3 linked regions of the Homo sapiens genome follow. The protein of the gene in region 1 interacts with the protein of each later gene in a pairwise test. Each region holds a gene or a part of one and is shown on either strand. Other genes may lie near its edges.

Region 1 (3,746 bases):
GCTCATGCCTGTAATCCCTGCACTTTGGGGGGCTGAGGTGGGTGGATCATCTGAGGTCAGTAGTTCGAGACCAGTATGGCCATCATGGCAAAACCCCATCTTTACTAAAAATGCAAAAATTAGCCGAGCGTGGTGGCGGGTGCCTGTAATCCCAGCTACAAGGGAGGCTGAGGCAGGAGAATCACTTGAACCTGGGAGGCAGAGGTTGCAGTGAACTGGGATTGCACCACTGCACTCCAGCCTGGGTGACAGAGCGAGACTCCGTCTCAAAAAAACAAAAATTAATGATATGTTGTTCACAAAAGACACACTTAAAATCTATCAGCAAGTTTGAAAATAATGGGATGGAGAGAAAGTTATACTCTGTGCTGTAGACTGAATGTCTGTTTCTGTTCCAGATTCATATTTGAAATCCTAATCCCCAATGTGATGCTATTAGTGTGTAGGGCCTTTGGGGCATAATTAGGTCATGAAGGTAGAACCTTCAGGAATGGGGTTAGTGCCCTTGCAGAAGAGGCCCCAGTGAGCTCCCTCACCTTTTTTTTTTACCATGAAGGGATAAAGATACACTTTCACTGTGTCACACAGTGAAAAGGCAGCAGTCTATGAGACAGAAGGTGGGCCTTCCCCAGGCACTGAATCTGCCCACACCTTGACCTAGGACTTCCCAGCCTTCAGGACTGTGAGTAATGGGTTTCCATTGTTTATAAGCTACCCAGTCTATGGGATTTTATTATAGCAGCCCAAATGGACTAAGACACTGTACAAATTTAAGCCCAAGGAAGACTGGAGGTAGCAATGTTAATATCATTAAAAGTGGAATTTCAGCTAAACGGCACTAATAAGGCTAAAGAAAGATAGCACATTTTAAATGTAGGGGTTTTTCCGCCCTCCCTTCTCTCTTTCCCTTTATGCTCATTTGTCTCTGGCTAGAGATTTGCCAGTTGGCTTCACCTAGCTTTGGAACAGCATTGCGGGCTCCTGCTCCCTGGGGAAAGACTGCATCCTTAACACCCCCTGGAAACCTGCCTTCCACTCCCAGCTTATCCCAATGTTTGTGCTCATATTTCACTGGTCACTACTATGTGTTTGCAGCAGAGGAAGCAAGAAAAGATGTAACCAGTTGCCCTCCTCTGCACTCTCTGTCACACTCATCACCTTCCTAAACAAATGTTCCCAAATGACCTTCGGCTGTTCCTCCCTTCCTCAATTGCTCTCTCATTTCATCCCTCTCACAAAATCCACCATCAAATCCACTTCCCTAGCGCCGCCACTGAGAACATTTCAAAGAATATCTTTTAAGCTCTGAAGTCAAGTTTCAAAGGCAGACTCAGGCAAGGTAGCATTGTTAGAATAAATGGGTGGTCAGTCATTTGGATGTAGGAGTCTATGTGTGAGGGTCTAAACACAAATTGAGGCTGGGCGCAGGGGCTCATGCCTGTAATCCCAACACTTTGGGAGGCTGAGGCTGGTGGGTTGCTTGAGCAAATAATAAAAATTTAAAAAATAAAACGGGGCTGGGTGCAGTGGCTCACGCCTCTAATCTCAGCACTTTGGGAGGCCACATGGGTGGATCACCTGAGGTCAGGAGTTTGAGACCAGCCTGGCCAACATGATGAAACCCCGTCTCTACTAAATATACAAAAATTCGCTGGGCGTGGTGGCGGGTGCCTGCAATCCCAGCTACTTGGGGGGCTGAGGGAGGAGAATCTCTTGAATCCTGGAGGCGGAGGTTGCAATGAGCTGTGATTGCACCACTGCACTCCAGCCTGGGTGACAGGGCGAGACTCCATCTCAAAAAAAAAAAAAAAGCAATGGGATGTGCACACACACAACTAAACAAATTGCATCACTTTATAATCACGTCTAAGATATCCGAGGAGGGAAAAGAAGAGGATTCTACGTCCTATTGCAATATCAAGGGAAACGGAGGCACCTGGAAATGCCTCTCTACCTGGAATTCTTGCCAGAAAGGGTCCACATTTCTTGCCTCTCACCCCATCTATGTGATGCAGCTCCAGCTCCGGGCAGAGGGAGACCTTCTGGGAGCTGCTGGGGGTGTTTGTGTCTGAGCAGCGGGAGCTGGTCTGCACCTCACTCAGCCCTTGTTCTCCATGAATCCTTGACAGGAGATGAATCCAAGGCTCACCTGTAAGATCCAGACAGGACAAATCTCCAGTCCGAGATGATGAACTTCTCCCGGATTTGGCCAGCGAATTTCCTGCCTGACTTGGCACAGTATATCTCTCCTTCCACACTCCGGATGGAAATGTTCTGTTGGAGGGAAAGTCAAGGTGTCACTTCCTAATTCTGTTTATAGAGATACATTTGGGCTTTAGGCTGGATGTTTATGTTCCCTTTACCCCCATTCTGTGTTGAAACCTAATCCCCAGGGTGACGGTACTAGAAGGTGGGGCCTTTGGGAGGAGATTAGGTCATGAAGATGGAGTGCTCATGAATGGGAGGAGTGCCTTATAAAGGAGGCCTAGAGATCTGCCTCACTCCTTCTGCCATGTGAGGACACAGCAAGAAGACAGCCATTTATAAGCCAGGAAGTGGGCTTCACCAGACGCCGAATCTGCCAGAACGTTGATCTTGGAGTTCCCAGCCTCTAGAACCATGAGGAATAAATTTCTGTTGTTATGAACCACCAGTCTATGGACTTCTGTTATAGCAGCTGTGATGGACTAAGACAATTTGTGCATGAAAATGTCTGGTAGAATGTTCATCAAGATGGAAATGTGTTATCTCTGGTTGGTGGGATTCTGGACCATATTAATATTTTCCCTGGGCTGAATTGTCTAAATTGTCTTCACTGTCCTGGCATCAGCTGGCAACAAAAAAAAAGGAAGGTGGTAGAATTCAAATAAGGCAGCAAATAAAAGAAAAGCAAGGGCCTAATGCCTATGGAGCCCCGAGTCTAGGCCCCCATGAGCCACAGGTGGCCTGGCAGTTACTTGGAGGCAAGCCCAGCCCTGCCTTGTAAGTGGCTTGACCTGAGTCCCTGACCCTAAGCTGTTCAGAGGGAAGGCTCGGTGCAGCCAGAGGAGGTGGTTTTGTGGAGGTAGCAATAGACCCTGTATTGTCTTAAGCAAAGGTGAGTCTGCAACCCTACCATGGCTCTATTTATCCCTTGTCTTCCCTGTAGCACCTGCTGCTCCCGCCGTACAGCTGGAAGGCTGGAGAAATGGAAGAGTGGGTAAAGTGTGGGAGTCTCAGGGTTAAGGCTGAGGGAGGTGGAATACTGTCTGGATTCCTCAAAAGACTGCTGGTGGCTTGGCAGGTCCTGGGAAGGGCAGTCCTGCCTCCAGCCGCTTCCCCTGGGCTTCTCCATAGCTCTGTGAGATCTTGAGAGGAGGGACACCATTGTCCTATGGTGAGCAGAGTACTGTCAGGTGTGGCCAGCATAGGCCATGAAAGCAAGGCCAGTTCTGACACTTCTGACCTGTTTCAATGGCCTCGTGCCAAGGAGGTATGATCTACGTCATGCCAAACAGACCAGCAGCCAGAGGTCCCAAGGCCTGTGGCAGCAGGAGGCAGCACTGAACTCAGCTGCATCTGTGCAGAGGGGAAGGGAGGGAGGGAGGAGGCTTCATTCTTATCTGGGAGGTTCTCCCAGAGGACAGAACCTCTCTTGCCTGAACTAGAGGAGACTGATCAAAAGAACTCTGAGGGCCACCAATCAGCTGTTCACCCAGGCCTACTCATGAAAGCTATGGGTGGTGTTCACATTTGAATTAGTTGTC
Region 2 (3,746 bases), on another chromosome or scaffold:
GACTCCCTGCTTAGGGGGATGCAAGGCTGGGTCTGGGGTCTCTCTGAGTGGTCCCCCTGAGCACTGCCCCTGCCAGGGGCTGGCTCCTGCCTGGCGTGTCCCCAGGGGACCCCAGGCTTCTAGCTGTAGCCTGGAGAATGCCCAACTCTATGGTCAGCTGTGCAGGCCTCACCCAAGGCTAAGGTCTTGGACACCCGTCTCTCACAGCTCCACACACACACTCTCTCACAGCTCCACACACTCACACTCAAACTCACTCCAGCCAGGGCTGCTATCCATCCCCCTCACAGCACGGCCGCCCTGGAGCACATGCGGCCCTGCACAGCCGATCAGATCAGCGGAGGAAACCCTTGAAAATCCTTTAGGGCAGGCCCCTGGCAGCAGCTGCCAGCAAAATCACCCTCACGCCCCTCCCCTGCGTGGGGCCCAGGAGCCAGGCTAGGGGCTCAGCGCTCCATCCAGGACGGCACAATGGGGCTGTGTCTGGGACCAAAGCAGAGAGCAGACCGGAGGCAGCAAGGCCTCTGTCCGCCGTGCCGCCACCAGTACCTCATTTCGGGTGCCCCAGGCAGAGGCTTGCTGCTTGGCTGGGGCCAGAGAATCCTTGGGGGCCAGGCTAGGCGCCCCCCGGGATCAGCTGCTGGGACCCCTATCAGGGAGGTCACCAGGTTTTAGGGATGTCCAGAGGACAATAGTGTCCCTCGCTCTGGGGAGCCAGGCCTGCCTCTGACGGCTGCCACCCATTCGCAAGCCCCTGCCTGGACCTCACGCTCGTGTGGCTCTGCCTGAGGCCTGGTACCACCCAGCCTTGCTTGGGGCTCCAGGCACCTGCCCGGCTGGGCCCAGGGCAGCCCCTGGGGGGACATTGGGAGTCACCAGGCAGGCATGCCACCTGGGGCAGGGCCACCCTGTCATCCCCAAAGGCGTGGGGCACAGAGCCCAGTCACTGGGATCACCCAGGAATGTGCCCGGAGAGTAGATGCCTTTTCAGGCAGGTACACACCCACCTGGCTGGCTCCCTTCCAACCCAGCTGGATCCCACTGGGCTCGTGGAGGGCTGGTGAGGGGCAGAGCCCCATCCAGAGCAGCCAGGTCTCTTTGGCCATGATGCCCCTGAGTGCCCCGGGCATGGCAGGGCCAGGCTTGGGAGGGAAGCACCCCACGGTGCCCCTGCCAGGTGCCAGGGGAGTGAGGCTGGAGAAGCTGCCCACCCCGCCTCCAGCCCCCCGGCCCCCCACCCCCTTCCCCTTGGCTTGGGGGAAAGAGGGCTTCAGGGGACGCCCACGCGGGCACACGCCGGGCTGGGCTCGGCCTGGAGGGAGGGGCGCGTCCTCAGCCACGCTGCGCGCCCGCGAGAGCTGCCTTTGTTCCCAACTGCAGCCTCCCCCGCGTCCCGACCCGGCCCGGTCCGGTCCCAGCCCCGGCCCCGGCCCCGGCCCCGGCCCGTCCTACCTGGAGTAGAGGCGCCTGGCGGCCGGGCCCGGGAGCTCGTCGGCCGCGGGCGGGGCCGGGCCCGCCATGGGTCGGGGACGCGGGAGCGGGAGCCGGGAGCGCCCCCCGCGCCGTGGCCGTCCGCCCCCTGCCCGCCCTGCTGTCCTCCCTGCTGTCCGCCCTGCTGTCCGCCTGTCCGTCCGCGCCTCGTTCGCCCGTCCTCCCCCGGGGAGGCGCCGAGGAAGTGATGTGCGCGGGGCGCCGCCGCCCCTCCCGCCGCCGTGGCCGTGATGTCACCGCCGCCCGCGCGGGGAGGGGGCGCGGACCGGGCGGCCACCGCCGCGTGCCTCCCTCTGCGGGGGGCGGGGCGGACGCGGGGGGAGGGGCGCCGTGAGGCGGGCAGTCCCCGGGGAGGGGGGAGGGGGGAGGGGGTGTGGGCCCCAGCCCACCCCACCCCAGGGAATGCAGGGGAGAGGGCCTGGGCCTGGCCTTGCTGCTGGTCCCCTGGGGACTTCTGAGGGCCCGCGGGGGTCCCTGGGTCACAGTGCAGCCACACTGGCCTCTGGGCTCCTTTCATCCACAGGCCGCCTGGTGAGCCCCGCAGCCTCACCCACGTGGGGAGGGGCTGCTGAGGCCTCCTTGCCTTTCTTGGTGGGCGCCCTACGCCTCGGGGGTCCTACCCTCCTCTTCTGTGCAGCCCCAACGTGGCTTTGCCCCCTTCTCCAAACTTCTGCCTTGGGCCATGGGGCGCAGGCCGTGGGGATGCTGTCTGCCTGCTTTAGAGAAACCTGGGGCACCGATGACAAATACAGGCTCTGCTTGGCCTGTGGGACGGTTGGTAAGCCCCCCACCTCTGAGACCCTGGGTGGCCACATTCCCCTCCCAAGCTCCCCCGGAATGGGGATGCAGCCTGCCCCTTCCTTCCTCCTGGGCACTGTGCAGGCTTAGGGAGGATGCAGGTGGCACAGTAGGCTGTGCCCACCCGGGGTCCCGGGACCCCAGCCCCTACCGCCTCCTCCTCCTCCTCTGAATTCTTGGAGCCCTGTGGGCCTATGTGGTGTGACGTGGCTTCCCCTCCACCCACCCTCAGCTCCCGATGGCTTGGGGGGTTCTCCGCAGCCAGCGAGGCCCACAGCCGGCCTCCCCGGGTTCTGTCCTGCCCCCGACAGCATCCTGGGCCTTCCGGTGGTGTCAGGAGACTCCAGGCCCTTGAAAGGCAGCTGCGACCCCGGGTATGACTCGGAGAAGTCCAGGAGCAGGAAATGGGCTGCATTCCTTCGGGGCCCCTCCGTGCACCCCAGCCCCTCCCTGGGAGAGCTGCCCTGAGGTCAGGAAAGTGCCGTCCTGGCAAGACCCTCAGCAGCTGCCGCCCACAGGACAGTCAGCGTTTTCAAGCATGGGAAGGAAAATAAACACGAGGTTAAAAAGGGGTCTGTTGGCCCCGGGCTGGTTTGTTTTTCCTGTGTAAGGGAGGCAACGGGAATGAGAACCATCTGTGCCCTGAGCGCAGCGCAAGCTGCCTGCTGGGCCCACGTGCCCTCCCCCAAAGACCACAGAAGCCAGGCAGAGCCTTGCTCCCTTCCAGCCGGGGCCGTGGCTGCTGGCCGGCAGGGACAGTGGTGTTGGCTGGGGCACCACCCTCCTTTGCCACAGCCCTGGGCCTGGCTGCGGGCAGAGAACAGGCCTTCGATTGAAGCTCCAACCTTCCGGGCCACCTCCTTTGGGCTTCGGGCACCTGAGCCAGCATCCCATTGTAAGGGCAGGGGCTGCTGGGGGCCCTGCCTGTGCCAGGCCTCAGCTCAGCCCTCTTTCCCCAGGCGCTGCTGCCATCAGGAGGCCCACAGAGGGTCCACACCAACACTGTGAGCCCCTTGTGGGTCCCCTGGGTTAGTGGTGGGAGGCTGGTGAAGAGAAGTGGGGACAAAAGACATTGCACAAATGGTGGAGGGAGGGAGAGATTTGCAGCCTCGTAGCTGTCATTGCTGGGGGAGCTTCTCCTGGTCTCCTTCCTTGATGCAGAGAGCTGGGAGCTTGTGTCCCTGGGCCGGGAGAGCCCCAACATTATATCAGAACTTGTGGGGAAACCTGCACCCCCGAGGGCTCTGGCTTTGTTAGGCCGAGCTGGGCTATGAGGCTGTGTGACCTGGCACAAGTTGCTTTCCCTCTCTGAGCCTCGGTTCTGTCACCTGAGGGCTGCCCGTCCCGCAAGGTGTGGAGGGTCACTGAGGCGTGGGGTTTCTGCGGTGCTTGTCCATGTGCCTGGCACACAGTGGGGTTTGTGCAGTGCTTGTCCATGTGCCTAGTGGCTCACAGTG
Region 3 (3,746 bases), on another chromosome or scaffold:
CCTTTGGTTGTCCAGTCATCCCTTGTGATCTCCCCTCTTTCTGCTTTCTCCCCTATCCCCTGTCTCTACCCCCAGGCACATGGCCACCCACTCAGCCCAGAAACCCCACCAGTGTATGTACTGTGATAAGATGTTTCACCGCAAGGACCATCTGCGGAACCATCTGCAGACCCATGATCCTAACAAAGAGGCCCTCCACTGCTCTGAGTGCGGTAAGAATTACAATACGAAGCTGGGCTACCGGCGCCACCTGGCCATGCATGCTGCCAGCAGCGGTGACCTCAGCTGCAAGGTGTGCCTGCAGACCTTTGAGAGTACCCAGGCCCTGCTAGAGCACCTGAAGGCCCACTCACGCCGGGTAGCAGGCGGTGCCAAGGAGAAGAAGCACCCCTGTGACCACTGCGACCGGCGGTTCTATACTCGTAAGGATGTACGGCGGCACCTAGTGGTGCACACAGGCCGTAAGGACTTCCTGTGCCAGTACTGTGCCCAGCGGTTTGGCCGTAAGGACCACCTGACGCGTCATGTCAAGAAGAGCCACTCGCAGGAGCTGCTCAAGATCAAGACAGAGCCCGTGGACATGTTAGGCCTACTCAGCTGCAGCTCCACAGTCAGTGTGAAGGAAGAGCTGAGCCCTGTGCTGTGCATGGCCTCTCGGGACGTAATGGGGACCAAGGCCTTCCCTGGCATGTTGCCCATGGGCATGTATGGTGCCCACATCCCTACCATGCCCAGCACGGGCGTGCCACACTCCCTGGTGCACAACACGCTGCCCATGGGTATGAGCTACCCTCTGGAATCCTCACCTATCTCTTCCCCAGCTCAGCTCCCTCCAAAATACCAGCTTGGATCTACCTCATACTTGCCCGACAAATTGCCCAAAGTGGAGGTGGATAGTTTTCTGGCGGAGCTTCCTGGAAGCCTGTCTCTCTCATCCGCTGAACCCCAGCCCGCCTCACCTCAGCCGGCGGCAGCTGCGGCCCTCCTAGATGAAGCACTGCTTGCCAAGAGCCCCGCCAACCTCTCTGAGGCCCTCTGCGCTGCTAATGTGGACTTCTCCCACCTACTGGGCTTTCTTCCACTCAACCTGCCCCCGTGTAACCCACCTGGGGCCACAGGAGGCCTGGTCATGGGCTACTCCCAGGCTGAGGCACAGCCCCTGCTTACCACTTTGCAAGCTCAGCCTCAAGATTCCCCAGGAGCTGGGGGACCACTGAACTTTGGGCCTCTGCACTCCTTGCCTCCTGTCTTCACGTCTGGCCTGAGTAGCACCACCCTGCCTCGTTTCCATCAAGCATTCCAGTAGCCCCCACAGAGGCCCTCAGCTCAGTTTTTGGCTCTGTTATGGAGCCTTAGTACCCACCCCGTCTGTGTCCCCCATGAAGGCAGCTGAGCTTTCAGAGCTGGGTTCAAAAAAAAAAATTCCAGTGTCTGTATACAGGAGCACTTGGTTTGGGGGTTCAGGCTCTAGGATCGATTCCAGAAGGAGCCTTGAGCCCCAACCCCGTGAAAAGATCTCATACCGTAGGACTTCAGGTATTATTTACTTTTATTTTTTTGACCTGAATCGGGAGCCACACTTGGCCCTCTTCCTCTCCAAAGCGCCAGAACCTCCTTCTCTTTGGAGAATGGGGAGGCCTCTTGGAGACACAGAGGGTTTCACCTTGGATGACCTCTAGAGAAATTGCCCAAGAAGCCCACCTTCTGGTCCCAACCTGCAGACCCCACAGCAGTCAGTTGGTCAGGCCCTGCTGTAGAAGGTCACTTGGCTCCATTGCCTGCTTCCAACCAATGGGCAGGAGAGAAGGCCTTTATTTCTCGCCCACCCATTCCTCCTGTACCAGCACCTCCGTTTTCAGTCAGTGTTGTCCAGCAACGGTACCGTTTACACAGTCACCTCAGACACACCATTTCACCTCCCTTGCCAAGCTGTTAGCCTTAGAGTGATTGCAGTGAACACTGTTTACACACCGTGAATCCATTCCCATCAGTCCATTCCAGTTGGCACCAGCCTGAACCATTTGGTACCTGGTGTTAACTGGAGTCCTGTTTACAAGGTGGAGTCGGGGCTTGCTGACTTCTCTTCATTTGAGGTCACATTTTTCCCCCGTGGGGAAATAAACTGACTTTGGACTGCTTCAGTCTCTGCCATCTTCCATGACTGCATTTGTTCCTGCCTGCCTCGGCGGTATCCACAGAAGACAGGCAAGAGGATTGGAGCAGTTTTCTCACAGGTCTGCAATTCTGTTTTTCTCCAAGTACATTATGACCCCCTCATCCTTCTCTTGAACTGGAGAGGGGAAGAAATGAAAGGCATGCCCACGTCCGTCACCTCCCCATCCCCTAGTCCCCACCTTGAACATCATGAGCTGTTGTTATTAGTCTTGGAAGCAGAGTCTGGGTTGGTGTGGATAGCAAAGGAGGAAGTCTGAGCCCCTCATTGGTCTTCCTCCCACCTGTCCCTTTTCCGGGAAGTTGTGGAATTGTTGGAAGAAGAGTTTGCAGAAGGTTAGGAATGGGTAGATAGCTAAGTCCTAATCTATGGGTACATTGTTGTGTCCCAAACCAAAATTTTCCTTATCCACAATGTCCCTTCTGTCTCTTCCACTTTACAGTGGACTCGGCCACTGTGCATAGGCTTCTCTGCTCTCCATCAAATCACTTCCACTTTCCTGTGCCCCCACCCCCGCCTCCAGTTTTCCGCTAGTATCCGGCAAGGTTTCTTGCAACAAATGATTAGTTCTTTTCTTCTGACTCGTGGGGCTCCCTGCTGCAGAGAGCACAGCCCTTGCCTGGAGCCCAGGAACCCCATCCTTGCTTCATCTCAGTTCTTCATGGGCTTCACTCTTCCCACTCACGGAAGGGAGGTAGCTCAGGGACCTCCACTGTGGGACCCTTGAGACGCTTCCACTCTGATTCAGAAACACACTTCTACCTCTTTACTGTTAACTCTTAACAGATGCAGTCAGCAGTTTCTGGGCACTTCTCTCAGTAGGTGCCTCATGCTGACTTCTCCAGTAGGGTTTCAGGACAAACTACCAAGGAATTGCCTCAGCCTCCTACCAGTCCTCCCTCACCCACCTTCTGTCTAGGTTCACTTGGTTTGTCATCAGGAACTGAGCAGGTCCAGGACTCAGCTTTCTGCTTCAGCCTAAGCCAGTACTCCTTGTTTGAGGTAAAAGCCTTAAAATTTAGCTCCCTAGCTCTTGATTAGAAGCAATTTGGAGTAAGTGTGTTTTGATTTAGGCAGGGTAGCTTGGGATACCTTTTTAAAAACACCAGATATTAAAATGTCTGGCAAGGTTAGAATCAGACTAGATGATTTGCTTCTAAAAATTAGTTTCAGTGAGTCCCAGGGACTAATTAAGGTTTATTTTAAAAAGTGTCTACCTTGGTACGCAGCCACCTCCTGCATGCTGTGCATGTTATTGGGACTTGTATTATAGGTGATGGTATGTGAGAATCCAGTTGGGACTCGCTGTTGCCATCCTCTTTGTTGTATCTGGTTTTCATCACTAGACTCAGCAACCCTTCTCACCTTAACTGCCACCTTCCCTACACTCTCAGTTTACAGAGGCCACTGGGCCTCTGGCTGCAGAATACAAAGTCCCGGGCTGTTAGAGGAGTCCTTTCCTCTCTGCCTGCCCTTTCCTGTCCCTCCCTCGAATTCTCTCTCCCCGTAAGTGATGCTGGAAAAGTCATAGGACTGGCAAAGCAACTGTTTAAACCCTTTGTAACCGGGGCCT

The links.
Region 2: the proteins of FAM83A (region 1) and GPSM1 interact in binary tests that used the Homo sapiens proteins (3 or more experiments, as listed by UniProt).
Region 3: the proteins of FAM83A (region 1) and PLAGL2 interact in binary tests that used the Homo sapiens proteins (3 or more experiments, as listed by UniProt).

What each region holds. Positions count from the first base shown.
Region 1 is NC_000008.11:123,192,552-123,196,297, reverse strand, and holds part of FAM83A (protein FAM83A), read right to left. Parts: intron 2,275-3,746; coding exon 2,150-2,274; intron 1-2,149. UniProt on the Homo sapiens protein: Involved in mitochondrial maintenance during adipogenesis. May be acting by playing a role in the maintenance of normal mitochondrial function.
Region 2 is NC_000009.12:136,325,470-136,329,215, reverse strand, and holds the start of GPSM1 (G-protein-signaling modulator 1), read right to left. Parts: upstream 1,678-3,746; 5' UTR 1,521-1,677; coding exon 1,453-1,520; intron 1-1,452. UniProt on the Homo sapiens protein: Guanine nucleotide dissociation inhibitor (GDI) which functions as a receptor-independent activator of heterotrimeric G-protein signaling.
Region 3 is NC_000020.11:32,194,012-32,197,757, reverse strand, and holds part of PLAGL2 (zinc finger protein PLAGL2), read left to right. Parts: intron 1-75; coding exon 76-1,306; 3' UTR 1,307-3,746. UniProt on the Homo sapiens protein: Shows weak transcriptional activatory activity.